Homo sapiens: one gene and its partners. The protein of the gene in region 4 purifies or fractionates together with the protein of the main gene of each other region. This does not show direct contact. Each region holds a gene or a part of one and is shown on either strand. Other genes may lie near its edges. The genes, in order: HP1BP3, RPRD1A, ARCN1, ARHGEF10L, NOP58, DDX50 and PRP4K.

Evidence for each region.
Region 1: the proteins of ARHGEF10L (region 4) and HP1BP3 purify together in Homo sapiens (affinity purification with mass spectrometry, with the first as the bait; one large-scale study listed by BioGRID). This does not show direct contact.
Region 2: the proteins of ARHGEF10L (region 4) and RPRD1A purify together in Homo sapiens (affinity purification with mass spectrometry, with the first as the bait; one large-scale study listed by BioGRID). This does not show direct contact.
Region 3: the proteins of ARHGEF10L (region 4) and ARCN1 purify together in Homo sapiens (affinity purification with mass spectrometry; one large-scale study listed by BioGRID and IntAct). This does not show direct contact.
Region 5: the proteins of ARHGEF10L (region 4) and NOP58 purify together in Homo sapiens (affinity purification with mass spectrometry, with the first as the bait; one large-scale study listed by BioGRID). This does not show direct contact.
Region 6: the proteins of ARHGEF10L (region 4) and DDX50 purify together in Homo sapiens (affinity purification with mass spectrometry, with the first as the bait; one large-scale study listed by BioGRID). This does not show direct contact.
Region 7: the proteins of ARHGEF10L (region 4) and PRP4K purify together in Homo sapiens (affinity purification with mass spectrometry, with the first as the bait; one large-scale study listed by BioGRID). This does not show direct contact.

Annotation. Positions count from the first base shown.
Region 1 is NC_000001.11:20,745,808-20,749,307, reverse strand, and holds part of HP1BP3 (heterochromatin protein 1-binding protein 3), read left to right. Parts: intron 1-1,652; coding exon 1,653-1,764; intron 1,765-3,500. UniProt on the Homo sapiens protein: Component of heterochromatin that maintains heterochromatin integrity during G1/S progression and regulates the duration of G1 phase to critically influence cell proliferative capacity.
Region 2 is NC_000018.10:36,022,106-36,026,375, reverse strand, and holds part of RPRD1A (regulation of nuclear pre-mRNA domain-containing protein 1A), read left to right. Parts: intron 1-697; coding exon of another isoform or gene 698-778; exon of another isoform or gene 779-1,490; intron 1,491-4,270. UniProt on the Homo sapiens protein: Interacts with phosphorylated C-terminal heptapeptide repeat domain (CTD) of the largest RNA polymerase II subunit POLR2A, and participates in dephosphorylation of the CTD by RPAP2.
Region 3 is NC_000011.10:118,589,108-118,593,377, forward strand, and holds part of ARCN1 (coatomer subunit delta), read left to right. Parts: intron 1-1,233; coding exon 1,234-1,399; intron 1,400-3,601; coding exon 3,602-3,749; intron 3,750-4,270. UniProt on the Homo sapiens protein: Component of the coatomer, a cytosolic protein complex that binds to dilysine motifs and reversibly associates with Golgi non-clathrin-coated vesicles, which further mediate biosynthetic protein transport from the ER, via the Golgi up to the trans Golgi network.
Region 4 is NC_000001.11:17,636,782-17,641,051, forward strand, and holds part of ARHGEF10L (rho guanine nucleotide exchange factor 10-like protein), read left to right. Parts: intron 1-1,106; coding exon 1,107-1,222; intron 1,223-1,780; coding exon 1,781-1,908; intron 1,909-2,456; coding exon of another isoform or gene 2,457-2,460; exon of another isoform or gene 2,461-3,050; coding exon of another isoform or gene 3,051-3,072; exon of another isoform or gene 3,073-3,200; intron 3,201-3,420; coding exon 3,421-3,521; intron 3,522-4,270.
Region 5 is NC_000002.12:202,285,886-202,290,155, forward strand, and holds part of NOP58 (nucleolar protein 58), read left to right. Parts: intron 1-1,774; coding exon 1,775-1,839; intron 1,840-4,270. UniProt on the Homo sapiens protein: Required for the biogenesis of box C/D snoRNAs such as U3, U8 and U14 snoRNAs. Part of the small subunit (SSU) processome, first precursor of the small eukaryotic ribosomal subunit.
Region 6 is NC_000010.11:68,935,815-68,939,314, forward strand, and holds part of DDX50 (ATP-dependent RNA helicase DDX50), read left to right. Parts: intron 1-191; coding exon 192-265; intron 266-1,121; coding exon 1,122-1,281; intron 1,282-3,500. UniProt on the Homo sapiens protein: ATP-dependent RNA helicase that may play a role in various aspects of RNA metabolism including pre-mRNA splicing or ribosomal RNA production.
Region 7 is NC_000006.12:4,061,964-4,065,825, forward strand, and holds the end of PRP4K (serine/threonine-protein kinase PRP4 homolog), read left to right. Parts: 3' UTR 1-3,020; downstream 3,021-3,862. UniProt on the Homo sapiens protein: Serine/threonine kinase involved in spliceosomal assembly as well as mitosis and signaling regulation. Connects chromatin mediated regulation of transcription and pre-mRNA splicing.

The DNA of each region.
Region 1 (3,500 bases), 3.1 Mb from region 4:
ACTACTGACTGAAAACCAAGAGGGAACAGCTTTACAAATTTCATATTTACAAAAAGAAAAACAAATAATCAAAACTGAATTCTTAATTTAAAGCATCTGCTTATAAGAAGTTGCTTTTACTGTAAAGATTTTTCTGATATTTATTGTAATTTAGATAAATCTCTAGGTTCAAAGCAACTCTAAATTATAGTGTATTTTTTCCTACTTTTGAATGTTCACCAAAAACATCTAATTTTACTTTGAAACAAAGCCAGGATTTTAGAGTACTTACTACTTATATTATTTCTTATTAACCTAAGCCCCACAACAGACAATACTTTATTTCAGTAAAGTATATTTACTCTAGGAGGTGGTGATTTGAGATGAGACACCCTGCCTTATCAGCATTATCGTGTGGATTGGTGAGACTGGGTGACTTCTCAATGAACTATTAGAAGAGGCACAATGTTGTAGGGTGAGGGATATGGAAATTAAGTAACAGAAGAAGACAATCCAGAATATATTATTGTAATTAAAAGGTAATTTTGAAGTCTTTTTTTTTTTTTAGACGGAGTCTCGCTGTGTTGCCCAGGCTGGGGGGCGCAGTGGTGCGATCTTGGCTCACTGCAAGCTCCGCCTCCCCTGGGTTCACGCCATTCTCCTACCTCCACCCCCTGAGTAGCTGGGACTACAGGCACCTGCCACCACCCCTGGCTAATTTTTTTGTTTTTGTATTATTTGTTTTTAGTAGAGACAGGGTTTCACCGTATTAGCCAAGATGATCTCAATCTCCTTACCTCGTGATCTGCCGGCCTCGGCCTCCCAAAGTGCTGGGATTACAGGCGTGAGCCGCCACGCCCGGCCTATTTCTATATGCCAGATGTTTTAAGAGAAGATGAATTTGGTTAACAAGCCTTTCAGTTTCACTGATATTTGCAGCTGTTTTTTGGATACTGAATCACCATAAAATATATTTTGGATATGTCTCTGTAAGAAAGATGAGAATGAAGGACTTCAGGAACCATGATATTGTTTTGTTACTGTTTACTGATTTATGAATAATTAGTTCTGTTCATCTTTATAAGAGATTCTCCTAGATGATTATCAATACCTATAGGTACACAATAGATGTTTAAGTGAATGGAAATAATTAAATACTTAGTTTTAGGTCTGCTGTTTATGTGCTACCTTAGAGCAAGTCACTTAACTACTTTGAGCTCAAGTCACTTAACCACTCTGGGCTTTTTTTTTTTCCCTGTGAAATAAGGTATTTGACTCAATGGTCTCTAATGTGTCTTTTCATTATAACTCTTGCCAGGTATGGTGGCTCATGCCTGGAGTCCCAGCAGTCTGGGAAGCCAAGGTGGGAGTATTGCTTGAGCCCAGGAGTTTGAGACCAGCCTGGGCAACATAGTGAGACTTTGTCTCTATATTTTGCAAAATTTTAAAATATAGATATATGTATGTATGTATGTATATAATTTAACTCTTGCCAAACTTATGGGCAATAAGTAAATGTTTAATTAAATACCTTTGAACACATAGGATTCACTTAGTGTATGTCAATTACCGTATGTGACAGGATATTAAATTGATGGGCATCTGTTTGTGGTTGAGGGAATTATCTAATCTGAATAACTAGATAACTTTCATTTCTGAATTTTTTTTTTCAGTGCATTTGCTGAAAAAAACCCTGCAGAAATGCGAAAAGAATGGGTGGATGGAACAGATCTCTGGGAAAGGGTTCAGTGGCACCTTCCAGCTCTGTTTTCCCTATTATCCCAGGTAAGTACTTAGCCTATAATAGATCACTGTAAATTTATAGTCTAAGTTACACACTCAGTTTAATTTATTTTACCCTTATTACTGTTTTAGTGAACTGGAAATACAGTCGTCCTTTGTTACATATAGGGGATTGGTTACAGAACTGCCCGCATACCCAAATGCGCATGTACTCAGCCCTGTGGAATCCATGTATCTGAAAAGTCTGTCCTCTTTGTATGCAGGCTTCGCATCCTGTGGATGTTGTATTTCTGATCTGTGTCTGGTTGAAAAAAAAAAGTCCACATATAAAGTGGGCTAATGCGTTGCCAACCTGTGTTGTTCAAGGGACAACTGTATTTGAAAATAAAGATGACTTTTAAGGCAGTATTATTTTGGAGTAAAAGGTTTTGTATAAAAATAGTGATTTTAGCCAGGCATAAGATTATTTGAGATCCTCGGATGGTCATTTTGATGTTCATTCCTTCTTTATCAAGTAAATGATAATGACAGATTCTTAGAGGATTATGTATAAGTTTTTGTTTTTGTTTTTTGAGACAGGGTCTCACTCTATCGCCCAGGCTGGAGCAGTGGTATAATCTCGGCTCACTGCAATCTCCGCCTCCTGGGCTCAAGTGATCCTCCCACCTCAATATCCCACGTAGCTGGGACTACAGGTGCGCGCCACCACACCCAGCTAATTTTTGTGTTTTTTGTAGAGATGGGGGTCTTACCATATTATCTAGGCTGGCCTTGAACTCCTGGCTCAAGCAGTCCTCTCGCCTCAGCCTCCCAAAGTGATGGGATTATATGCATAAGTTTTAATTGTCCAATACCAAGTGGGGAGAACATTGACTGTTTTCAAGAATCTTAACTCTACCTCCATACTGTAGAGACAGGAACACTTATCTGAAAATTTGTTTCTTGCAAATACCTTATTTATTCTTTGAAACAAAAAAATATATTGATCACCTCCTGTGGTCCAAGCATTGTTTCATGCACTGGGTTTAAAGCCTTTTGATTTCCAGTAAAGTACATAACATATACCACTAAGACCCTGTTTTAGCAAGACTATTGTGTAACTTTCTTATATTATTATTTCTGTACAAACATAAGTGTTACTTGGCTTAATACATATTATATAAATTTTTCGAACATTAAACATTAAATTTAATTCCCAAAGTCACACACACACAAAATGTTACATTCTGCCAGGTGTGGTGGGATGCACCTGTAGTCCTAACTACTTGGGAAGGTGAGGTGGGAGGATCCCTTGAGCCTAGGAGTTTGATTCCAGCCTGGGCAGCATAGCAAGACCCTGTGTCTGAAAAAGGCAAGAAACACACACACACACACACACACACACACACACACACACACATATATGTATGTATGTTATCATTTAAGGATATGTTAATCAAAGGAATCAAGGTTCATACCACCAAGGACAAAAAAGAGTTTAGGAGATCCTTGCCGAATACCTTTGAAGCTTTGAACAGATTTAGGCCTTTGAGGTCTTTTTTTTTAAGACTTGGAGGTCTTTTGCCAGTATTATGAGGCTGAAGTGTGTATTCCATGCAGACTGTTCATTGCTGTGTACTCATTGGCTAATACAGTGCCAGATACATATTAGGAGTTTAAGTAATTGTTTACTAAATAAATGACTATGGATTAATTTTATTAAATAGTGGGTATAGAATTAGGTATGGTGCAGGACTTTTATAGATTTGGCATAACTTTATATGTATGTTCAAAATACG
Region 2 (4,270 bases), on a different chromosome or scaffold from region 4:
TCTGGGAGTACAGGAGGTGATTTTAAAAAATGCTCGTATTTCCTTTGATTAGAGTAGCAATTGTTAGGGATACATGAGCCAGATTTGGTTTTATGTAAAAAAAATCTTTCAGTTGATGAGTTCTTGTTTAAATTGTATTGCTGTGGCAATTTCTTATTGTAATAATATGTAGGAGAATTTCTAATTTGAATCCCTTTATTTACAGAAAGCTCACTGTAAATTTGTAGGAATGTCATGGTACTACCCCATTAAGTTATTTTTATTAGTGTTTAGTTATTGATTCAGCAGTCTCTAATTGTGCCAAAAATGGTGCTTAGATTAGATTGCCATTGCTACCCATGGGAGCTGCTACTTAATTATTCCCACCTCAAATTCCCAGCTCTCAAGTTAGCACTACTCCTTTGCAATTTACTCCTTCTCTGCTCGTATAAATACCCTCAGATGATGATAGTTGGTGGCCACTATACCTTTGAAGAGGTTGCCCACTTCTACATGGAAAGGAAAAGATGGTTTTTTTTTTTAAAAGATGAATTTGATAATTAACTTGCCACTATTTCACCTTGTGATGAAACCTCAATTTTAAACATAGTGTTAATTGTTTTATTGTCCACAGAATTAAGGGTAAGTAATGTCATACAATTTTTGTCTTTAGTCTTTTAGTATGGTTTCTTTAACTTCTATTGAGCTTCTGTTGCAGATATTGGACATGGGCGTATCTTCTAACGATGTCGTCACCATTAGTATATTCTTCCTGCTAAAAATAAATATCAAACCCTGAAGCCTGTATTGTCTCATGTTTTTGAAAATTGAAGAGAAGACTGTAACTTTATTCTGCTTTATACTTTCTCACTTATGATGATGGTCATTTGTCACTGTTTACAAAAACAGAATTTATATTTGAAGTGTAACTGTAGAAAATAGATCAGATGCCACTCCCCACAACCCCCTTTTCCCCCAGTGCCTTCCAGCCACATTTCATAGTTGACAGTCATAGATTATGAGGCTGATGATAATAATAATGTTAACATTCATGTGTCAGGTACTATTCTAGGCACTTCACATAAGCAACTCATTTAATCTTACACAGCAGGATGTATTATCCACATTTGATAGATACAGAACTGAGGCACAGGAAGATTAAGTAACTTGCCTAAGGTCACAAAGAGCTAGTGAGTTGTTTGGAACGCAGAGAATCTGCCTCCAGAGCCAGTGCACTTCATCAAAAAGACACATTGCTTCCTGTTTTTACTTAAATCTAAGATTAAAGCAAATGCTAAAGTCCTATTTTTTCCAACTTTTTCTGCTCCCTCTCTTCTCAGAGGTAATCACTGTCTTGAAATAAAGCCTTCTAGGAACTTTTTTTGTTGTTCTTCTGCATAACTGGATTTTATATTATAAAGAAGAAATCACCTCAATTATGTTCAGCTGTTTTTTAACAAGTAAATACTCTTTACAAGTACAGAAATAAACTTGAAAGTTATTCCACAGAACTCTTTGTAAATTATCACTTAGAACTATGTTATTCCTTTGTAGAAGATGTGGAAATGATTTGAGATATTTAGACTTTTTTGTACCAAGTAGGTGGCATCACTTTGAAGTTGAGACTGAGAGGTGAAGATTTATGTTTTCTGAATCAGCTGTGATACTATCAAGTAATTTTCATCTATTGTGTATCTTTGAACATTAACAGTGGTTGACCAGATACTGATGTGTCATTTGTTGCTGCATTTTTGATAATGGAACATAAATTTAAAGTATCAGTTCGGGAATTGGCCATTTCATATTTCTTAAGGAAGCCATTATTAAAGCATGTGTAATGAATGAAAACATGAAGTGGTTTAAAATTTGTGTTTTAAGACAATCATTATTTTTGAAACTTCTGACTATAGTTGGTTACTAAGCAGAAGCAGATAACTGTTGGGCCGGGTGTGGTGGTTCACGCCTGTAATCTCAGCACTTTGGGAAGCTGAGCTGGGTGAATCACTTGAGGTCAGGAGTTCAAGACCAGCCTGGCTGACATGGTGAAACCCCATCTCTACTTAAAAAAAAAAAAAAAAAAAAATTAACCAGGTGTGGTGGTGGGTGCCTGTAGTCCCAGCTACTTGGGAGGCTGAGGCAGCAGGATCACTTGAACCTGGGAGGTGGAGGTTGCAGTGAGCTGAGATCACACCACTGCCCTCCAGACTGGGCGACAGACCGAGACTCCATCACGCGCGTGCGCGTGCACACACACACACGAGATAACTGTTAAAATAGACTATTAATAACTTTAGTTTACATTTATAATATTTAGGGATTGCTATAGGAATCATTTTACCATTATGAAGTTGAAAGTATTGCATAAACTGTTTTTCAGTTAGCTTATTATCTTGGAAGGCATACATGAATAGGAGAATTAAAATGACATTTTGACTTTGACATTGTTTCCTAGTACATACAAAAGTTATGTTTACAACTTTACTGTTGTCTAAGTATTACAATTACACTTTACTGTTGTCTAAGCATTAGGATTACATATAAAATTACATATAAAAAATGTACGTATCTTAGTTAAAAATGCTTCATTGCTAAAAAAGACTAATCATCTGAGCCTTCTGTTAGTCATAGTCTTTGCTGGTGGAGGGTCTTGCCTTGATATTGATGGCTGTTGACTGATTAGGGTGGTGATTGCTGAAGGATGTGGCTATGGCAGTTTATTAACACAGTGATAAAGTTTGCTGCATCAGTTGACTTCTTTCTTGAAAGATTTCTCTGTAGGATGCAGTACATTTGATAGCATTTTGCCTACAGCAGAACTGCTTTCAAAATTAGAAGCAATTTTCTCAAGCCCTGCTACTGCTTTATCAAGTAAATCCTTTGTTGTCATTTCATCTCCACTGGGAGTAGATTCCATCTCAGGAAACCACTTTATTTGCCCATCCATAAGAAGCAACTCCTCACCAACAAGTTTTATGAGATTGGAGCAGTTCAGTCACATCTTCAGGCTCCACTTCTGTGTCTCGTTCTCTTGCTATTTGCAGCAGATCTACAGTTATTTTCACCACTGAAGTCTTGAACCCCACAAAGTCAGCCATGAGAATTGGAGTAAACTTCTTCCAAACTCCTGTTAATGTTGATATTTTATCTCCTCCCATGAATCATGAATGTTTTTAATGCCATCTAGAATTGTGAATCATTTTCTGAAAGTTTTCAGTTACTTTGCCGATATTCATCACAGGAATGACTATGGCAGCTATATAGCCTTACGAAATGTATTTCTTAAATAGTGAGACTTGAATGTCAAAATTGCTCTTTTATCTATAAGTGGCAGAACACGTGTTAGCAGGCATGAACACTAGTCACATTGTACATCTTCATCAGAGCTCTTGGGTGACCAGGTATGTTGTCAATAGTAATTTTTTATTATTGTTATTTTGGAGACAGTCTCTTGTTCTGTCACCCAGGCTGGAGTAGTCATGCAATCACAGCTCACTGTAACCTCGAACTCATGAGTACAAGTTATCTTCCTGCTTCAGCTTCCAAAGTAGCTAGGACTGCAGGTGTGTGCCACCATGCCTGGCTAATTTTTAAATGTTTTGTAAAGAAGAGTTCTTGCTGTGTTGCCCAGGCTAGTCTTGAACTCTTGGGTCAAGCAGTCCTCCCACCTGGGCCTCCCAAAGTGCTGTGACTACAGGTGGGAATCACTACATCTGGCCAATAGTAATATTTTGCAGGTCTCAACAGTTGGCTTAAAATACTCAGTAAACTATGCTGTAAATAGATGTATTGTCATCTATACTTGTTTCTTTTATAGAGCACAGGCAGAGTAAATTTAGCATAATTCTTAAGGACTCTAGAATTATTCAGAATGGTAAATGAACATTGGCCTCTACTTAAAGTCGTCAGCTACTTTAGCTCCTAATGAGGGCCAGCTTGTTTGTTGAAGCTTTGAAGGCAGGCATTTATTTCTCTCTAGCTATGAAAGTCCCAGGTGGCATCTTCTTCCAGTACCAGGCTCTTTTTTCTACATGGAAAATCTGTTGTTTAGTGTAGCCACCGTCATCAACGACCTTAGCTAGAGCCTCTGGGTAACTTGCTGCAGTTCTTAGTTCAGCCCTTGCTGCTTCACTCTGCACTTCGAAGTTACGGAGACAGCTTCTTTCCATAAACCAACCTCTGCTACTTTCAAACTTTGCTTCTGTAGCTTCTTTACCTCCCTCAGGCTTCATAGAATTGAAGAGCGTTTGGGCCTTGCTGTGGATTAATTAGGCTTTAGTTTAAGGGAATGTGG
Region 3 (4,270 bases), on a different chromosome or scaffold from region 4:
CCCTAATCTTATAAAATAAGCACTGAAGTATTTAGGGGTAAAGTGCCGTGTTGTATATAATCTGCTTCTTAATGGTTCAGGGAAAAAAAATCAAATGTATAACATACATATATAATGTTTAGAGAGAGAGAAACACAAGTGCAAATTATAAAACAAATGAGGTAAATATTAACAATAGGTGAATCTGGAAAAGGGTATATATGTCTTCCTTGTATAATTTTAATTTTTTTAAGCTTGAAAATACTTACAAATAGAAAGTTTTTTCAGTTGTTTGTTTTCTCACCATTGCCTACTATTCATTCGGGTGGATATGCCTTTATTTTTTATTTTTTATTTTTTTGAGACAGAGTCTCACTCTGTTGCCCAGGCTGGAGTGCAGTGGCACCATCTCGGCTCACTGCAAGCTCCGCCTCCTGAGTTCACGTCATTCTCCCACCTCAGCCTCCTGAGTAGGCGCCCGTCACCACACCCGGCTAATTTTGTTTTTGTATTTTTAGTAGAGGTGGGGTTTCACCATGTTAGCCAGGATGGTCTCGATCTTCTGACCTCGTGATCTACCCGCCTTGGCCTCCCAAAGTGCTGGGATTACAGGCGTGAGCCACCACGCCCGTGAATATGCCTTTATTTGAGCAGCCCCCTATTGGCAGACATGTTTCTAAACTTTTGCCATTACAAACAATTCTTCAGTGAATAACTTAGCAGATTGTTTTGCACAGGTGAGAATTTATCTGTAGGATAGAGTCTGTTGAAGAATTGCTGTATCAAAGGGTATCGCCTTTTAAATGTTGATAGCTATAGCAGTAGCACCTTTAAAAAAACGTTGTTGATGGCTAATCATTAGACCTTGGAGAAAGGGAGTTCTGATTTCTACCTTTCTTTTTTCTTTTCTTTTCTTTTTTATTTTTTGAGACAGAGTTTCACTCTTGTTGCCCAGGCTGGAGTGCAGTGGGACAATCTCGGCTCACCACAGCCTCTGCCTCGTGGTTCAAGCGATTCTCCTGCCTTAGCCTCCCAAGTAGCTGGGACTACAGGCATGCACCACCACGCCTGGCTAATTTTGTATTTTTAGTAGAGACGGGGTTTCTCCATGTTGGTCAGGCTGGTCTCGAACTCCCCACCTCAGGTGATCTGCCCGCCTTGGCCTCCCAAAGTGCTGGGGTTATAGGCATGAGCCACCACGCCCGGCCATTGGTTTCTACCTTTCTGAACAAATGTATTACTTTCTCTTTATAGTGTACATATGAAGATTGAAGAAAAGATAACATTAACCTGTGGACGAGACGGAGGATTACAGAATATGGAGTTGCATGGCATGATCATGCTTAGGATCTCAGATGACAAGTATGGCCGAATTCGTCTTCATGTGGAAAATGAAGATAAGAAAGGGGTGCAGCTACAGGTGTGTAGAAGCTTTTGATAGGGAGTATTAACACTTTGTCTACCTATTATAGTCTTTCTCAACTAGAGTTCCCAATATGAACCACAGAAAATTACTTAAGTTATATAACTAGCATCACTCTAAACGCTTAGGAAAGAAGTTAATATATTGCATACAGTAGCTACCTGAGAGTGAGTAAAGCAGCTGTGTAAGGATGGCTTTTAAATATTGGAATTGAATAAAAGGTCATTTCGAAATCTAATAAATGACTTCATACTCACCAATAAAAGGTACAAGGAGGTGTTTGTCTTTTGCTGTTATGAAAACAGTAAATTAATCACTTAGGATCTTGCTTGAAATACAGTTTTAAAAAAACAAGGCTTTAGGCCAAGTGTGGTGGCTCATGCCTATAATACCAGCACTCTGAGAGGCTGAGGCTGAAGGATCGCTTGAGCCCAGGAGTTCAAGAACAGCCTGAGCAATGAGGGCTGAGCAACAAGACCCTATCTCTACAAAAACTTAAAAAATTAGCCAGGCGTGGTGGCACAATGCGAAATTTACTCATTCTGCTATTAAATAAACTGCCAGTGCTTGTTTTGTTAACTGAAGGGCAGTATCTAATGGTGTATTTGAAAAGTACATAAAATCCTTTCAATATAAGTGTGTGTGTTCCAACTATTGGATAGATATATATAAGCCCTGCTTTATGTTACAGGTGTTCTTGTAATTTCATTTCATTTAGCCGACATCTCGTCACAAGAACAAAGCCTTTTTACGGAAGAGTGTTTTTGTCTACTTTCCCCACCGTAGTCAGCACAGAATTGTCTTTTGGAAGCAGTGCTTATATTATTTGACATTTTTGCTGGCTTGTAAAGTGCTATCCAAAAGTGATTTCTGTTTTGTTTTGTTTTGTTTTGTTTTCCTGAGATGGAGTCTCTCTCTGTTGCCCAAGCTGGAGTTCTGTGGTACGATCTTGGTTCACTGCAACTTCTGCCTCCCCAGTTGAAGCAGTTCTCCTGCCTCAGCCTGCTGAGTAGCTGGGATTACAGGCACCTGCCACCATGCCCAGCTAATTTTTTTTATTTTTAGTAAAGATGGGGTTTCACCATGTTGGCCAAGCTGGTCTCGAACTCTTGACCTCATGATTCGCCCACCTCATCATCCCAAAGTGTTGGGATTGTAGTCATGAGCCACCATGCCCAGCCCTTCTGGGTTTTTTTTGTTTTTGTCTTGTTTTTTTGTTCTTTTTTTTGTTTTTTTTTTTGTTTTTGCACAGTCTCTCTCTGTCATGCGGGCTGGAGTGCAGCAGCACAACCTTGGCTCGCTGCAGCCTTAACCTCCTAGGCTCAAGCAATGCTTCCTCTTCAGCCTCCATAGTAGCTGGAACTATAGGTGTGCACCACCACACCCAGCTATTTATTTATTTATTTATTTATTTATTTTTTATTTTTTGAGACGGAGTTTCACTCTTCCTGCCCAGGTTGGAGTGCAATGGTGTGATCTCGGCTCACCGCAACCTCTGCCTCCCGGGTTCAAGCCATTCTCCTGCCTCAGCCTCTCGAGTAGGTGGGATTACAGGCGTGCGCCACCATGTCCAGCCCCAGCTAACTTTTGTATTTTTAATAGAGATAGGGTTTTGCCATGTTGGCCAGGCTGATGTCAAACTCCTGACCTTCAATGCCCCTCTCACCTCAGCCTCCCCAAAAGCAATTTCTTTTAAAAAGATAAGACTATCTTAATTGGCTTGGATTTTAACAACTTTAAGTCTCTAGGCAAAATTGCAACTAGACTTTACACAGAGCTTGCCCTTTTCTGCTACTTTATATAAGGCCAGAACTGCTGTCTGACCCAGGCAGCTGATCAGGGTCTTACTGGAGCCTTCTGCTTGGCAAACCTGGCCCCACCATGAACCTGCTCCCTGTGAAGTATTTTTGGAAAGAACTTGGTTAATAGTCTTTTAACTTTTTCAGGTGCAAACTTGTTCTGTAATGGCTTTTAGAGTTGAAATTAGCTTTTTTTTTAAAAAATTACTAGTTTTTAAGTATCTTAAATCATTTTAAAATAAGTCTTTGAAGAAGGGAAATCTTTCTTCAAAATGAAAAAGAATTGGAATTTGTTAGGTACTCTATTTTGGATGTTTAGATTGTGGGCCATATAAGCCTAGTGAGGGGTTGTTTCTCGTCTATCTGAACCTCAGGAGTTTTCCTTTCCCTCTCATTCTAGACCCATCCAAATGTGGATAAAAAACTTTTCACTGCAGAGTCTCTAATTGGCCTGAAGAATCCAGAGAAGTCATTTCCAGTCAACAGTGACGTAGGGGTGCTAAAGTGGAGACTACAAACCACAGAGGAATCTTTTATTCCACTGACAAGTAAGTGCCTCTGGCCAGTCCCACTAAGCTAGTTTGCATTGAGAACTAGAAATAGCCCTTGCTGGTACACTTTTATTTTTATTACCATAGCAAAGTTCTTTCTGACAAAATGACTTTCTTTTGAAATGGACCTGGTGCTGCATTTTGTATATTTTTATCATTAGTTTTCATTTTTAATAGCTTTCATTTTGAAACCATTGTAGTTTTGTTGTTGTTATTGTTTTAGAGACAAGGTCTTCTTCTGTTGCCCAGGCTGGAGTGCAGTGGGGCAATCATAGCTCACTGCAGCATCAAACTCCTGGACTCAAGCCATCCTCCTGCCTCAGCCTCTTTAGTAGCTGGGACTAGGACTATAGGCACATGCCACCACATCCAGCTAACTTTTTTTAAAAGACACAAACTCCCTCTGTCACCCAGGCTGGAGTGCAGTGGTGTGATCATGGCTCATTACAACCTTGAACTCCTGGGTTCAGCTGATCTCCCACCTCAGCCTCCTGAGTAGCTAGGAGAACAGGGAAGTG
Region 4 (4,270 bases):
ATCTAAATGAAAACCCCAAATAAGGCTTCCCCTCCACTCCCCTGGGGCTTCATAAGACCTCAGTGTGCAAAACCACGGCCTAGAGAATACAGTCCAAATTCCTAGCCCAGGGGCCTAGCGTTCAAGGCCTTCCCCATCTGGTCCTCCTGGACCCTCCTGCTCTATCTCTACCTGCCACCCCCTACCCCCATCTCACCCTTACTCCATCTGTATCATCACTGGTGATCTGGGCCCCCTCACCCCATCACTGTCCCACCACACTGATATCTTTCTCCCCACCACCTCCTACCACCCACCATTGTTAACTGACTGCTTCCTCCGCCACTTGTCCTGCCAAGGTCATAAGCTCCGGAAGAATGAGGACCCTGTCTGTCTTGTGTACTGCTGTCTCCAGTCTCTAGCATGGAGTCTGGCACACGATAGGTCCTCAGGATGTCTTTGAACAACTTGCTGTTCATGGGCTGCCTCAAGCCACAGTGCCTTTGCACACGCTCTTGTCTTTCTCTCCTGGCAGTGCCCACCACACTTCCAGCCCTATGCAGGCCCCTCCTCTCTCCCAGGCACAGCTTGCTCTTGGTCTTGTGGTCTCATACAGCCCTTTGTACAGACTGACTATGGCCTGGATCTCAGGTGTTAGACTTTACTCTTGAAAGGATCTGGCTTCCCAGCTAGTCTGGGCGCTCTGGTCAGGGTAGGAACTGGATGTTACTTTCTGGAACTCTTTCTTTTTTTTTTGGGTTGGAGTCTTGCTCTGTCACCCAGGCTGGAGTGCAGTGGCGTGATCTCGGCTCACTGCAAGCTCCGCCTCCCAGGTTCACGTCATTCTCCTGCCTCAGCCTCCTGAGTAGCTGGTACTACAGGTGCCCGCCACCATGCCCGGCTAATTTTTTTCTTTGTATTTTTTAGTACAGACGGGGTTTCACCGTATTAGCCAGGATGGTCTCGATCTCCTGACCTCGTGATCTGCCTGCCTCGGCCTCCCAAAGTGCTGGGATTACAGGCGTGAGCCACCGCGCCCAGCCTCTGGATCTTTTTTGTTGTGAGCAGATGCTTGGCTTCTTGTTAGCGCCTTCACCTGTGCCTGAGTTGGTCTCTTCTCTGCCCAGATAAGGTGTACCTCGGCCCCCCACGCCTCTTCCAGGAGCTGCAGGACCTGCAGAAGGACCTGGCCGTGGTGGAGCAGATCACGCTTCTCATCAGCACGCTGCACGGCACCTACCAGGTACGTGGCCTGGCCTGACCTTTTTGGCCTGAGCTCCCCAGTGTGGGCAGTGCCTGGATTCAGAAAGCTGAGTAGGGAGGGGCTCCTCTCCTGGCCCATGTCCCCGATGTGCTCCTAGCTTCTGAGCTCCTGTTGGCAACTGTCGCTGCTGAAGCTCCATGTCCCTGCCTGGAAGTCTCTTTTGCGGCCGCTGGTTCGGGCGCATCCTCTGGTTTGGGTTGAGTGGAGCCTGGCTGTGGGGCCTTTGTTTGTTCTCTGCACAGTGGCCATTCCGTTATGTGGCCCCTCCTGGGCCTCTACCCAGTGTGGAGGGGAAGCTGGCTGCGACGGCATGTCCCTCTCAGAGGAGGGCTCCAGGTGGGATCTGAGCCCAGGGCTGGGAAGCCTGGGGCATGGCGAGTTGGCCTCCTGCGTGGGGCTAAATGTGCAGCCTCAGTGAGGCTCCAGGACTTCTTCAGTTTCTCTTCCTCTGGGGTGCTGTGATTCCTATAGGATCTGGTGTGGCTTTTGGGGAGCCAGTGTGCTGTGTGGTGACCTCATTGGCCTCCTGAACCCTAGAACCTGAACATGACTGTGGCTCAAGACTGGTGCCTGGCCCTGCAGAGGCTGATGCGGGTGAAGGAGGAAGAGATCCACTCGGCCAACAAGTGCCGTCTCAGGCTCCTGCTTCCTGGGAAACCCGACAAGTGAGAGGAGGGGGTCTTGGAGGGAGGGCTGCTGCCTCTGCTGGGCTTCCAGTGGAGCAGGGGATCCGGAGAGGGTACCTGGAGCCCTCTTATTTGTCGAGATGCCATGGTGGGAGTGGATATGTAGGCATCGTGGGCCATGTCTGGGATAGCATCTGGCACGCAGTAGGTGCTCATGAAAAGACTGTGGAATGAATGAATGAATTAATGAACAGCCTGGTCATGTCCTGGATAAGCCTGGCCCACTGTTAGGATACTCAGACACTCTGCCATTGGTCAGTTCCATTTGCGCTGTGTCCTTTTCAGTCACTTCAGCCTATCTAGGCCCCCAGGCCAGGCCCTGGGTTTCCTCTCTCTGGACCCAGCCTCCCCCCAGCACCACCTTAGCCCCAGAATGCCCACCACAGGAGCTGTGCACAGTAGACCCCAACTGAGGTTTGTGGAACTGATGACAGCCATAGCTGCTCGGCCTGGCAGAGACAGGGAACGGGATCTTTCTGGTCCTCCTGAGGCTTTGTAAGTTGGGTCTTTTTATTTCCATTTTACAGATGAGGAAGGTGAGGCTCAGAGTTTCAGGAGAGGCTGAAGGCCACATCGTGAGAGACAGAGCTGGGTCCTGATGAGGTCTGACTCTGAAGCCCAGGCCAGTGCAATGAGGGGGCTCAATGCCCAGGTTTTGGCCTCCAGGGTGGGGTGAAGGTGGGGATAGAGTGTCACAAGCACAGTGGCTGCAAGGAAGAGAAGGTTGGAGCACTATCATTTGAGGTAGGACCATGGGCTCAGTCCCCCAGGGGACCATGTGTAGGAGTCAGCAGCTTTGAATCTGCCGCCTCCCTGTTGAGTGGCCTGTCCGTCTCCCTTCCTCCATCTCCCTTCTCTCTGCCTCTCATTCTCCACGTGCACCCTAGAGGCTTGTGACACTGCCCTGCCCACCTCCCAAAGGGCTGGGAAGGCCCCCACTGCTCTGAGGTGAGAGGACAGCGTGGTGACAACAGCAACCTCTGGTTGCCCCAAGCTGGTGCTTAACCTGATTCATTCATTTCTTCATTCATTCCTGTGTCCACTCAGCAAACATTTACTGAGCAACTGTCCCATGCCAGGTGCTGGGAACAGACCCAAGTGAGACCCATTCCTCCCTCTAGAGGCACGTGGTCAGACATGTAAGGTGTCTAAGACCTGTGGACAGCTGACCGCTGACCAGGTGGAGTCACAGCCTGCAGAGGCTCTGCCGGGCACAAAGCCAGAGGCTCCTGGAGCCAGGCTGGGGAGCGTGGCTCAGCCACCCTGGCCAGGTACCTCCCTCTGGGGGTCATTGTGGGCGGAGGGATTCCTCCCCCAGGGGACCGAGGCTTTGCCAAGCCACTGACCTCTTTGGCCACGTTTTGGGGATGCTCTGACCAGACCTCCTTGATCTCCAGGGCGCGTGGGTTGGAGGAAGTACTACGTGACAGCTGGGGGAGCCTGGCCCTTGTGTGGGTACTCACACATCCACTCTAACCCTTCTCACCACAGGTCCGGCCGCCCCATTAGCTTCATGGTGGTTTTCATCACCCCCAACCCCCTGAGCAAGATTTCCTGGGTCAACAGGTTACATTTGGCCAAAATCGGACTCCGTGAGTATAGCCCCAGGGAGAGTGCCTCAGGGGGCAGGGGTGTGGAACGGGGAGGTTTGGGGTGAGTGAGGGTACAGGATGGGTGTTCGGGGTCAGCGGGGGGCAGGGAGGCTTCTGAGTGGGAGGGAGGTGGTGCGGTGGAGAAACAGCTGGGGCCAGAGCCGGAGGCTCTGCTTTGTGACCCTGGACAAGTCACTTCCCCTCTCTGAGCCTCAGCTTCCCCATCCAGGAATTGATGGAACTTGACAGAAAGTAAATTAGTGGTTGCCAGGGACCTGAGAGGAGAGGATAATGGAGAATGACTGCTAGACTGCTAGGGGTTTTGGTGGAGGTGATGAAAATGTTCTAAAATTAGATGGTGGTGATTGCTCAACTCTGTGACTACACCAAAAATCAGTGGCGTGTGCACTTTAAAAGGATGCGTTTTATGGTAACTGGATTGTATCTCAATAAAGCTGTTACCCAGAAAAATGATGCAGGTTGGACTATACTGATTCTCAAAGACCAAAGACCTCGTTACTATGTTTTTCTTCCTGTGCACCCCATGGTATGAATACAGATACATAAATGGATATTTACATGCACTTTTCTGAGTATTTTTTGTGCATCTTTTTCATTTCACATTCACAGTAGCCTTAAGAGTTAGGTCTGTTGAGAATCTCTTTTTCCATTGAGGATTCTGAGGCCCAGAGATGTGCGGGGACTTGCCTGAGGTCACACAGAAGGAAGGGGCAGATCTGGGCCGCAGA
Region 5 (4,270 bases), on a different chromosome or scaffold from region 4:
TAAGCTAATATTAAAAGAAACACTACAGGCTGGGCACGGTGGCTCACGCCTGTAATCCCAACACTTTGGGAGGCCAAGGCAGGCAGATCACAAGGTCAGGAGATCGAGACCACGGTGAAACCTCGTCTCTACTAAAAATACAAAAAATTAGCCGGGCACAGTGGCGGGCGCCTGTAGTCCCAGCTACTTGGGAGGCTGAGGCAGGAGAATGGCGTGAACCCGGGAGGCAGAGCTTGCAGTGAGTGGAGATCGCTCCACTGCAGTCCAGCCTGGGTGACAGAGTGAGACTCCATCTCAAAAAAAAAAAAAAAAAAGGGAGAAAGAAACACTATAGGCCAGGCGCAGTGGCTCACGCCTGTAATACATCCCAGCACTTTGCGAGGCTGAGGCAGGTGAATCATGAGGTCAGGAGATCGAGACCATCCTGGTTAACACAGTGAAACCCCGTCTCTACTAAAAATACAAAAAAATTAGCCAGGCATGGTGGCGGGCGCCTGTAGTCCCAGCTACTCGGGAGGCTGAGGCAGGAGAATGGCGTGAACCCGGGAGGTGGAGCTTGCAGTGAGTGGAGATTGCTCCACTGCACTCCAGCCTGGGTGACAGAGTAAGACTCCGTCTCAAAACAAAACAAAAAAGAAACACTACAATTTAAAAAGGTCTATTTTAAAATTAAAAGGTGGGCATAGATTGAAAGGGTTGAAGCTGCTAAGCTAGAGTTAAGAGCAAAAATGCACAAAGGTTAGGGAGAGCTTTGTAATAAGCATTTCTAAGAGAGAACAAATAGTGAAACTGAGTCAAAAATCCAAACCTGGGTAAATCTGCATTGTGTATAGCAGTGGTTCCCTATCAAGGGCAATCAGATGTCCCCCCAGTAGGCATTTGTCTATGTCCATAGACATTTTTGGTTGTCACAATTGGAGGTGGGTTGGGGTCTGCCATGAGTATCTGGTGGATAAAAGTTAGGGATACTGCTAAAGGTCCTATAATGCACAGGGCAGCCTGTACAACAAGGAATTAGGCCCAAAATATTAATTGTGCTGAGATGAAAAAACATTTTTATACAGACAATATTGTTACTCCACAGCTTTCTGTTTTCAGATGTTAAGAGTCCTGCAAAGTTCCTAACTGGTAGTATAAAGCTTAATATGTGCTATTAAAAATTGCATGAACCAATATGGCTTTTTTTTTTTTTTTTTTTTTGAGGCGGAGTCTTGCTTTGTTGCCCAGGCTGGAGTACAGTGGCACGTGATCTCGGCTCACTGCAACCTCTGCCTCCCCGGTTCAAGCGATTCTCCTGCCTCAGCCTCCAGAGTAGCTGAGATTCAGGCGTGCCCCACCATGCCTGGCTAATTTTTATATTTTTAGTAGAGACAGGGTTTCGCCATGTTGGCCAGGTTGGTCTCGAACTCCTAACAGGTGATCTGCCCACCTCGGCCTCCCAAAGTGCTAGGATTACAAGCGTGAGCCACCACGCCCAGTCCAATATGACTTTTGTATTACACAGCTTATCCTATTTGTCATTCATACATAAACTCATTCATGTTACAGAAATAAAGGTCGTAGCAGCACATATAGTTTTTTTTTTTAATGTGTATTTTCTGTTCTCGTATGGTGCATTTCTACTTAGCTGATTTTTCTTCTTAGAAAAACCAATTACAGCTCTGACTACAGGCTGATTTGAGTAAAAACAAAAACAAAAAAAAACTTTAAGGTGTTAATTTAAATGCTTTTCCTAGATGCTATCTTGCTAATTTATTTTCCCCTTTCTTCCCAGCCTGTCTCGATATAGATTGAAGTTTAGCGCTGATAAAGTAGACACAATGATTGTTCAGGCAATTTGTAAGTATAGTACATGCAAAGTCCGATTTGTTGCTCTGTCCTTCATGCGTTTTCATACTGTTGAAACTATCTTTTATGATTCTGTCTGTTGAGAAAGAGAAAGGAGGCCAGGTGTGGTGGCTCAAGCCTTTAATCCCAGCACTTGGGAGGCTGAGGCAGGCGGATCACCTGAGGTCAGGAGTTCAAGACCAGCTTGGCCAACATGACAAAACTCTGTCTTTACTAAAAATACAAAAAAAATTAAATGTGCATGGTGGCGTGTACCTATAATCCCAGCTACTCAGGAGGCTGAGGCAGGATAATTGCTTGAACCCAGGAGGCGGAGGTTGACTATTTGGAGATTATATGAATCACAGAATTAACATTACGTTAATTAATTCATTTGTATTTTTCCATGAAAATGTTAAAAACATAAGTGCAATCTTTGTAGTTGTGTATTCTGCTGTGTCATTAAATGGTTTTTAGAAAGCTCAAAAGCTGCCAGGCACAGTGGCTCATGCCTGTAATCCCAGCACTTTGAGAGGCTGAGGCGGGAGGATCACCTGAGGTCGGGAATTTGAGACCAGCCTGACCAACATGGAGAAATCCCGTCTCTACTAAAAATACAAAATTAACCAGGCATGGTGGTGCATGCCTGTAATCTCAGCTACTCGGGAGGCTGAGGCAGGAGAATCACTTGAACCCTGGAGGCAGAGGTTGTAGTGAGTTGATCGTGCCATTGCACTCCAGCCTGGGCAACAAGAGCAAATCTCCATCTCACTAAAAAAAAAAAAAAAAAATCAAAATCTTAATCGTTTTTCTATTTTAGAAATGCATTCGGCCGTGGCTCACGCCTGTAATCCCAACACTTTGGGAGGCAGAGGCTGGTGGATCACCTGAGGTCAGGAGTTCGAGATCAGGCCAACATGGTGAAACCCGATCTTTAGTAAAAAATAAAAAAATTATCTGAGCATGATGGTAGGCGCCTGTAATCTCAGCTATTCAGGAGGCTGAGGCAGGAGAATCACTTGAACCTGAGAGGCGGAGGTTGCAGTGGGCCGAGATCGCACCATTTCACTCTAGCTTGGACAACATGAGCAACACTCCGTCTCAAAAAAAAAAACAAAGTATTCGGCTGGGCGCAGTGGCTCACACCTGTAATCCTAGCACATTGGGAGGCCAAGGCGGGTGAATTGCCTGAGCTCGGGAGTTTGAGAGCAGCCTGGCTAACATGGCGAAACCCTGTCTTTACTAAAAATACAAAAAAGTAGCCAGTCGAGGTGGCGTGTGCCTATAGTCCCAGCCACTTAGGAGGCTGAGGAAGGAGAATCACTTGAACCCAGGAAGCAGAGGTTGCAGTGAGCTGAGATCGCACCACTGCACTCCATCCTGGGTGATGGAGTTAGACTCTGTCTCCAAAAAAAGAAAAAAAAAAGCGCTCAACCAGCGATTCCTTTCCTAGATTTATACCCAAAAGAATTAAAAACAGAACTGAGTTGCTTGTACACCTATGTTCATAACAGTGTTATTTACAAAACCAAACAGTGGAAACAACCCAGATACCTTTTAACAGATGAATGGATAAACTGCATTGTGGATGCAGCTTGAATGTCCCTAATCTGAAATTCAAAATGCTCTGAAATCTAAAACTTTTTGTGGTACCACACAAATCCACAAGTGGAAAACTCCACACCTGACCACACGTCAAAACTTTGTTTTATGCACAAAATTATTTAAAATATTGTGTAAAATTACCTTCAAGGTTTTGTATATAAGGTATATGTGAAATGTAGATGCATTTCCTATTTAGACTTCGAGTTCCATCCTCAGCCTCATACGTGTTTGCAAATACTCTGAAATACTTCTGGTCCCAAGCATTTTGGGTAACGTACACCCAGCCACTTCACACAGTGGAATGTTAGTCAGCCTTAAAAAGAAATGAAATTCTGATACATATTTCAACATGATAAACCTTGAAAATATGCTAAGTGAAATAGTCACAAAATACTGCATGATTCTGCTTATATGAAGTACCTAAAATAGGTGAACTCAGAGACAGAAGTATAAAGATAACTAGAGGTTGGGGGGAAGGTGGGAATGAGTTACTGTTTAATGGGTACAGAATTTTTCAGTTTCTGATGATAAAATTGCTCTGGCAATAGATCCTGGTAATGGTTGCATAACATCATAAGAATACTTAATGCTACTGAATAGTACACTTGAAAATGGTTGAAGTGTTATTTTTTATTCTTTTTTTTTTAAATTTTTTGCGACGGAATCTTGCTCTGTCACCCAGGCTGGAATGCAGTAGCACGATCTCGGCTCACTACAACCTCCACCTCCTGTGTTCAAGTGATTCTTCTGCCTCAGCCCTCCAGAGTAGCTGGGACTACAGGTGTGCACCACCATGCCTGGCTAATTTTTGTATTTTTAATAGAGATGGGGTTTCACC
Region 6 (3,500 bases), on a different chromosome or scaffold from region 4:
ACAGAGCAAGACTCTGTGTCAAAACAAAAACAAAAACAAAAACAAAAAAGATAAAACTGATCTTTTAATCTGCTAGGGCTATGAAATCTTTAAATGCAAGAAATAGAAATTCAACGAACTATTAAAATATTAATTTAGGAATTAATTGTAAAGACTTCCATTTTTCTTTAATGTAACTCTTTCATTTTCAGGGAATTACTTTTAAACGTGTAGGTGTTCCTTCTACAATGGATTTAGTTAAATCTAAAAGCATGGATGCCATCAGGTATGCTTTCTGAACTTGCTGAATAATTGTTTCTTTTGTATTAGGCTATTCATCTGTAAGCTCTCCCAGTTCAAATAGCAGAAAATTTTACCACCAGTTTTACCAGCAGACATTTAGTTATATTAAAATATAAAACAGTGGCTCATGCCTGTAATTCCAGCACTTTGGGAGGCTGAGGCGGGCAGCTCATGAGGTCAGGAGATTGAGACCATCCTGGCTAACACGGTGAAACCCTATCTCTACTAAAAAAATACAAAAAATTAGCCAGGCGTGGTGGTGGGCGCCTGTAGTCCCAGCTACTTGGGAGGCTGGAGCAGGAGAATGGTGTGAACCTGGGGGGCGGAGCTTGCAGGGAATCGAGAGTGCACCACTGCATTCCAGCCTGGGCGACAGAGCAAGACTCTGTCTCAAAAAAAAAAAAAAAAAAAAAAAAAAAATATATATATATATATATATATATATATATATATAAAATGTGGCTGGGCACTGTGGTGCACGCCTGTAATTCCAGCACTTCGGGAGGCTGAGGTGGGCAGATTGCTTGAGCTTAGGAGTTTGAGACTAGCTTGGCCAACATGGCGAAACCTTGTCTCTACAAAAAATACAAAGATTAGCCAGGAGTGGTGGCGCGTGCACCTGTAGTCCCAGCTACTTGGAAGGCTGAGGTGGGAGGATTGCTTGAGCCCGGGAGGTTGAGGCTGCAGTGAGCCAAGATCGTGCCAGTGCGCTCCAGACTGGGTGACAGAGCAAGGCTCTATCTCAAAAAAAAAAAATTACTCCTTCTTTTTCCCATTTTTCTTCTTATCTTTTATTTTTTCCCTATGTCTTGACCAAGAATACTATTTTTAAACCATAGGTCTCTGGCTTCCGTTTCTTACGCTGCTGTTGATTTTTTCCGACCATCAGCTCAGAGACTGATAGAAGAGAAAGGTGCAGTGGATGCATTGGCTGCAGCTTTAGCCCACATTTCTGGTGCATCAAGCTTTGAACCACGATCTTTGATCACCTCTGATAAGGTAGAAATCTGTGAGAAAATTGTACATGAGTGGGAAAAGGTTAAAATTGAACATAGGAAATATTGTAGTGAATTATTGTGCTTTTTGTGCAGAAAAAAACTGTTTTGCTCTATGAGAAACTGGTCTCCTTATTTTCCTCTACTCCCTAATAAATCCTTTTTTGACAATCACCTCTTCCAAATTTTTCAAACCCACAGAAAAACTGAAAGAATAATGCAGTAACCACATACGATCCACCTAGATTCAACTGTTAAAAGTCTGTATCATGTGCTTTATATCCTTTTTTAGCTCTAATTTGTAATTAAAAAAAAAATGACATGTAATAATTGTACATATTTATAGGGTATGTGGTGATGTTTCAGTACATCCGTACATACCATGTATAGGTATCAGATCAGGATCATTAGCGTATCCATCGTCTAAACATTTATCATTTCTTTGTTTTAGGAACCATTCAATATCTTCCTTCTTGCTTTATAACTTTATAAGTTTTTTTTTTTTTTTTTTTGAGATTGAGTCTTGTTCTGTTACCCAGGCTGGAGTGCAATTACGTGATCTTGGTTCACTGCAACCTCTCCCTCCCGGGTTCAAGCAATTCTCCTGTCTCACCCTCCTGAGTAGCTGGGACTACAGGCGCACGCCACCATGCCTGGCTAATTTTTGTATTTTTAGTAGAGACAGGGTTTCACCATATTGGTCAGGCTGGTCTCAAACTCCTGACCTCAGGTGATCTGCCCTCCTCAGCCTCCCAAAGTGCTGGGATTACAGGCGTGAGCCACCTCACCCGGCCTGTATTTTTTTTCTAAATCATTTGAAAGTAAGTCGAAACACCGTGATATCATCCCTAAATATTTCAACATGCATCCTCTGAGAATAAGGATATTCTGCTACATAACCACAATATAATAAGCTCATCTGTGAAAATTAATGATAGTTCTGTATCATCATCTAATATTTAGTTTATATCCATTTTTTTCTCATTATCCTGAAAATGTCTGTCTGTCTGGGTATTTGGAGAGAAATATAGGAAATGCTCACTTTGCACAGACCTTTGTTAACTGAAACTTGTATCCCAGAACCTACATTTCATTTTGTAAGTTTCCATGGAATCCTGCAAAGTAAGAAATAGACTCTGCACAATTAACACAGTAGCATGCAAAGTAAGTAAGAAATGCCTGTGTGTGTGTGGAGGGGTTGTGTAAGTGTAACACCATCTGAACTGGCCTGCTGCCAGATTCGTATCACATGTCAAAACATACCACACCAGAACCATTGGTGCAGGTAGCTCAGAGATTTTTTACTTATTCAAGTATAAGTGAGGGGAGTTTCTTGGTGAAGAGAATTTTAAATAAGAGTTCTGTTATGTCTGAGTGGAGAGAGTGAGTGAGCGAACCTGGTCCTGGAGACATCTATAAGACTAGAGCCTGCTGGTGGGATTTTCAAATAATAACAAAACAGACTAATTTGGGCAGCACATCCCTGTGATGGGGAGGAGGAAACAAAAAGGGCAGGGCAGGTTCACTTGGATGTGACTTATTTGGTGTAGCACAAATGAATGCTGCTGGGGTATCTGATGGTTTCTACCTGGTAGGTGTTAATAGTTTAGCTAAATGTCATTTTGCTTTGAGTGACTTATTGGGCTCCATTCCGTTTATCCATATGTGTACATATACCTATTTGTATGTATGTTTTTAAAAATTCAGGACCTAGTTAAGTTTTACATGTTACATTTGGTATTATGTCTCTTTAGTCTCTTTTAGTCTGGAACTGTTTTCTCATCTTTTTAATTTTTTTCTGATATTGATTTGGTGAAGAGTCTTGGTCGGTTGTTTGGTAGAATATCTCACTGTCTGGATTTGTCCGAATCTCTTCAAGCATCATTTAACTTTTGCCTTTATCCTCTTTTAAACTGAAAGTAATATCAAAGCTTGACTTTTATATTTAGGTGAAATGTTTTTGGCAAGGGTACTTTATAGTTAATATGTACCTCATATTGCATCACATCAAGAGGCATAAAATGTTAGGTTGTTCCAGTACTAGTAATGCTTAATTTGCATTTGTTTAAGATGGAAACTGCCATATTGTAAAGGTGTATTTTACTCTCTGTAATTAGTAACTTGTGGGGTGATACTTTAGCATTGAGCAGATATCCTATCCCTAGTAACCCACCAAATGCTTAAGACAGTATTTAAAACATATTTCTTTAGAAAATATTGAGA
Region 7 (3,862 bases), on a different chromosome or scaffold from region 4:
AAATAGTTAAAAGCAACCTTTTGTTTTTTTCCTGAAAGTTTTTAATTGAAAGTATTATTAGTTAAAGATGTAAACCTAGCCAAAATTACCAGTTTATTAATAATTAGGATCCTAATTATTTCAAAAAATCCTACAAATATTGTCAGCTTTCAGTGTAGTGAGATTATTCCTGTAGGTTATGGGGTATAATTCAGGATTTAACTAATGTTTCTGCTATTTTCTCACTTTTCCTTTTGATGGTGCGGAAAGAGAAAAAGGAAAACGGGGCACAGGCCATTCGACGCCTTCTCCAAGGGGTCTGATTTGCTGAGACACCAGCTTCACCTTCTTAACAAGGTTATTTCTGACAGCATGTGTAGATAAACATTTAGCAACAATTTAAGACAAAATCGTTTAAATCAGCTTGGTTTTGCAACACAAAGGAATTTGTATTATTAACATGGTAGAAGAGAATTTTTCAGAAATATATGTAATCTTTGCTGTTTGGGGGGTAAAATTAATGCTTGTCTCCCTGAGGAATATGGAAAATAATCAGATTTTAGGGGTTTAAATAATATTTTTAAATTGTAAATGGGATTTTTTTATTCACCCAGGCACCTAATTACAACAAGCATGCACATTTTGGTGCATTCAAGAATGGAAAATCAGAATAGCAGCATTGATTCTTCTGGTGGGTTTTGCTCCATTTAAAGACATGAAATGAACTACAGCCAGGAAGGTGATAGATGATATAATAAGCCACCTCTGAACCTACACCCCGTCTCTTCACGGTTTAGACTTACTAAAATAAATACAAGGTGATTTTCATCTTCAGGTAGAGTGAAGCCTTTTAATTAAGGCGTCACAGGTGCAGCTATTCTACCTTAATGAAATGGGTAGTGATTTTCCCACCATTATTTATTTCGGTGATAATATGCTGCATATTCAAGTCTCTTGTAGTTATTTTCACCCAAAGTAGTTGACAATTTGATGCTTCTGGTGATGTTTATGGCTTCATTTTATGTAATTTTTTAAGTAAGTTCCACTAGAAACAGTTCATCTTATACCTTCAAAACTGTTACCTGTTCTTTAAAAAACAAAGTTGCTTGTTACTTGTTCTTTGTGTTTTAGGTGCAGCTCAGTGGAAGATGATGACAACCAGAAGACATGAGCTAAGGTTTCTGTCCTATAAAAGATTTATTAAAAAACAATCCTTCATTTATTTTTTGTCTAATTTTTTAGTTTTCAGCATTATGATTTGGGTTTTATTGGTGTTTGGTATTTAGAATTAGTGCTGTTGTGGAGTGCGTCTGTAAAGTGCTTGTTTTATCATACTTCCTGCCTCTCCCCTCCCCCAGTTTCTCCTCCCCTAAAATAAAAATAGTGGTCAACTTTAGTAATATAAAAGGCTGCTGGATGCTGAGATTCCACATAACACATGGTTGTCAAAATTGGATGTTAAGGATTCTTAGAAAAACAGCAACCACCAGAATAGCATATATCTGAAAGTAGTCTTCAGCTTTAGGCAGATGCAAAAGAATACAAACTGGAATATTAAGAATACTGTTCAACTCCTTTAGTATCTGTTCCCCAACTTACCCTGTAGAAACCTCGTTATTAACCAGTGTTCCAGTCTTAAAGTAGACAAAATATTCAGAGCCATTTTTTTTAAGGGAAATGAAAAAGATACTCTGGGTTTTTTATACTCCCCAATTTAGCATATCTAGACTACCTATTTGAAAGGAACCCTATCAACTGTCTTATGTACGTTACATGATTTTCCTACACTCTGTAATTTTGCTGAGGTGCAATTTGGAACTCTGCAAGACCTACTAGATTGAATTTATTTAGTGAATGCTCCTGAATAAATGTGCATTCCTCTTTTAGAGTAGCTGTATGCTTTTCAAATGCTATCTGCCGTGAATTTTTTGCTTTTATTATACTTTATGGCAAAAGTGATATCAAGTGATTGTCAGACTTGAGGGCTCATAGAAGTGTTAGGTACGGCTCTCAAAGATGTTACAGTTTTTTCTAGGGTTGGGAGAATAGTTGAGATCTGGAAAGCATAGACATTTTTTACACTCTGGATAGACTTTATTCTTGAAGATCATCAGAAATGAGGTTGGAATTTCGAGGTTTTGAGCAGGGGGAGCATCTTATATTCACCCTTAAATCGTTATTAATACATCCTGTTTTCTTCATTCCCTGATAGCTATCTCATTTCACTCTACTGTCTCAAAATTTTGTTTTAAAATAATAGAAATGTTTTGCCATTATTAAGTACCACTTTATTCCTAACAAAAATAAGTACTCAGGACTTTTTTTTCAAAATGAAATATTTATGTACTGTTTTATGGTATGTGGTAGAGTAAGTAAAATGTAATGTTCTCAGTTTTGTTCCATATTTGCATTCCTCTTATGCTTTACCTGTATTTTATCATTTGTAAGCAGAACTCTAGCTATATGGGGTAGAAATAAAATCTCTGAGATGAAACAAAGGAATCAACATGATAAAATTTAGGCGAAGTAGTTAAGAAATGGCCCTTTTGAATGTTGAAGATAGGAAAGAAAGCCATATATTCAAATATGTAATTTTCCTCATTTAGTTATAATGACATCTTTACCAATTGGGCTTCATAAATGTGTTTCTTTCTTAATAGTATCCTAGTTCCAGCATATATTCAACATGAATTTTATCATTCTCCTCCTAATGGAATGTCTTCCTTATAGAAATGTTCACGACAAATTCATTTGTGTTTTTTACATGTCAATAATGTATGCTAAATTAAAATGTTTTCCAGTTATTCTGATAGATGTCATTATGGCATCCTTAATTTTTCTTCTCCTTCTGTATATAGGGTAAGGGACTGTTCTGAAGAACCTTTCCATTTAGTGATCAAGATATGGAAGCTGATTTCTGAAAATGCTCAGTGTGTACTCTAATTATTTATGGTACCATTTGAATTGTAACTTGCATTTTAGCAGTGCATGTTTCTAATTGACTTACTGGGAAACTGAATAAAATATGCCTCTTATTATCATATTGTCTCCTGGTTTTTTTCTTTGGTTGAGTTCAGATTTTCCTCACAAACATCAAAACATTTTCAAAGCATTAGGTGCACAACACCAAAGAGTGTATTATATTCGTGTTCCTGTTACATACATTTCTGCTTTGGTTTTCCTAGTAAAGGAAACAGATAAGTAATGAGCCAACTCCTGTTTTTATAATGATAAAAATAAATTGGTTCATTGCTCACATGATAGCTTGACAAATCTTGGGCTCTTATCCTCAGTATACCCACTCTTTATTTTCTTCTTTTAAGGAACTGTTTTTGGCTTTTCAAAACAGTGAGTAAAATAGATTCACAGTGTAGTTTGTGAATCTTAGTGCATGCAAAGCAGATAAGGCAGGCAGAATGGCCTTGTAGAATGCACCCACCCACCCCATTGGAGCTAACCACCGCAGAGTGGCAGGTAGAAGCTAGTATGCTTGATTCTGGGCTGAGAAATGGTCAAATGGCACTGGCTCTGGATAGTCTTCATGTAAAGGCCCCAGTTATAATTTTGTTAGACTGCATAACTATCTAAAGTGGCTATGAGGTTATTGTATCTGGTACATTTTAGGGAAAATAGTATGCAGGATGTATTGGTTAAGGACCTTTCACACATACTTTTTTTCTTTCTTTTTTTCTTTTTTTTGAGACGGACTCGCCGTCTATCGCCAGGCTGGAGTGCAGTGGCACGATCACAGCTCGCCTCCGCCTCCTGACCTCAGGTGATCCACACGCCTGAGCCTCCCAAAGTGCTGGGATTACAGGCATGAGCCACCACACCCGGCCACACATACTTTCTCTAATTAGAAAGATTCAACCTCATGAAGATC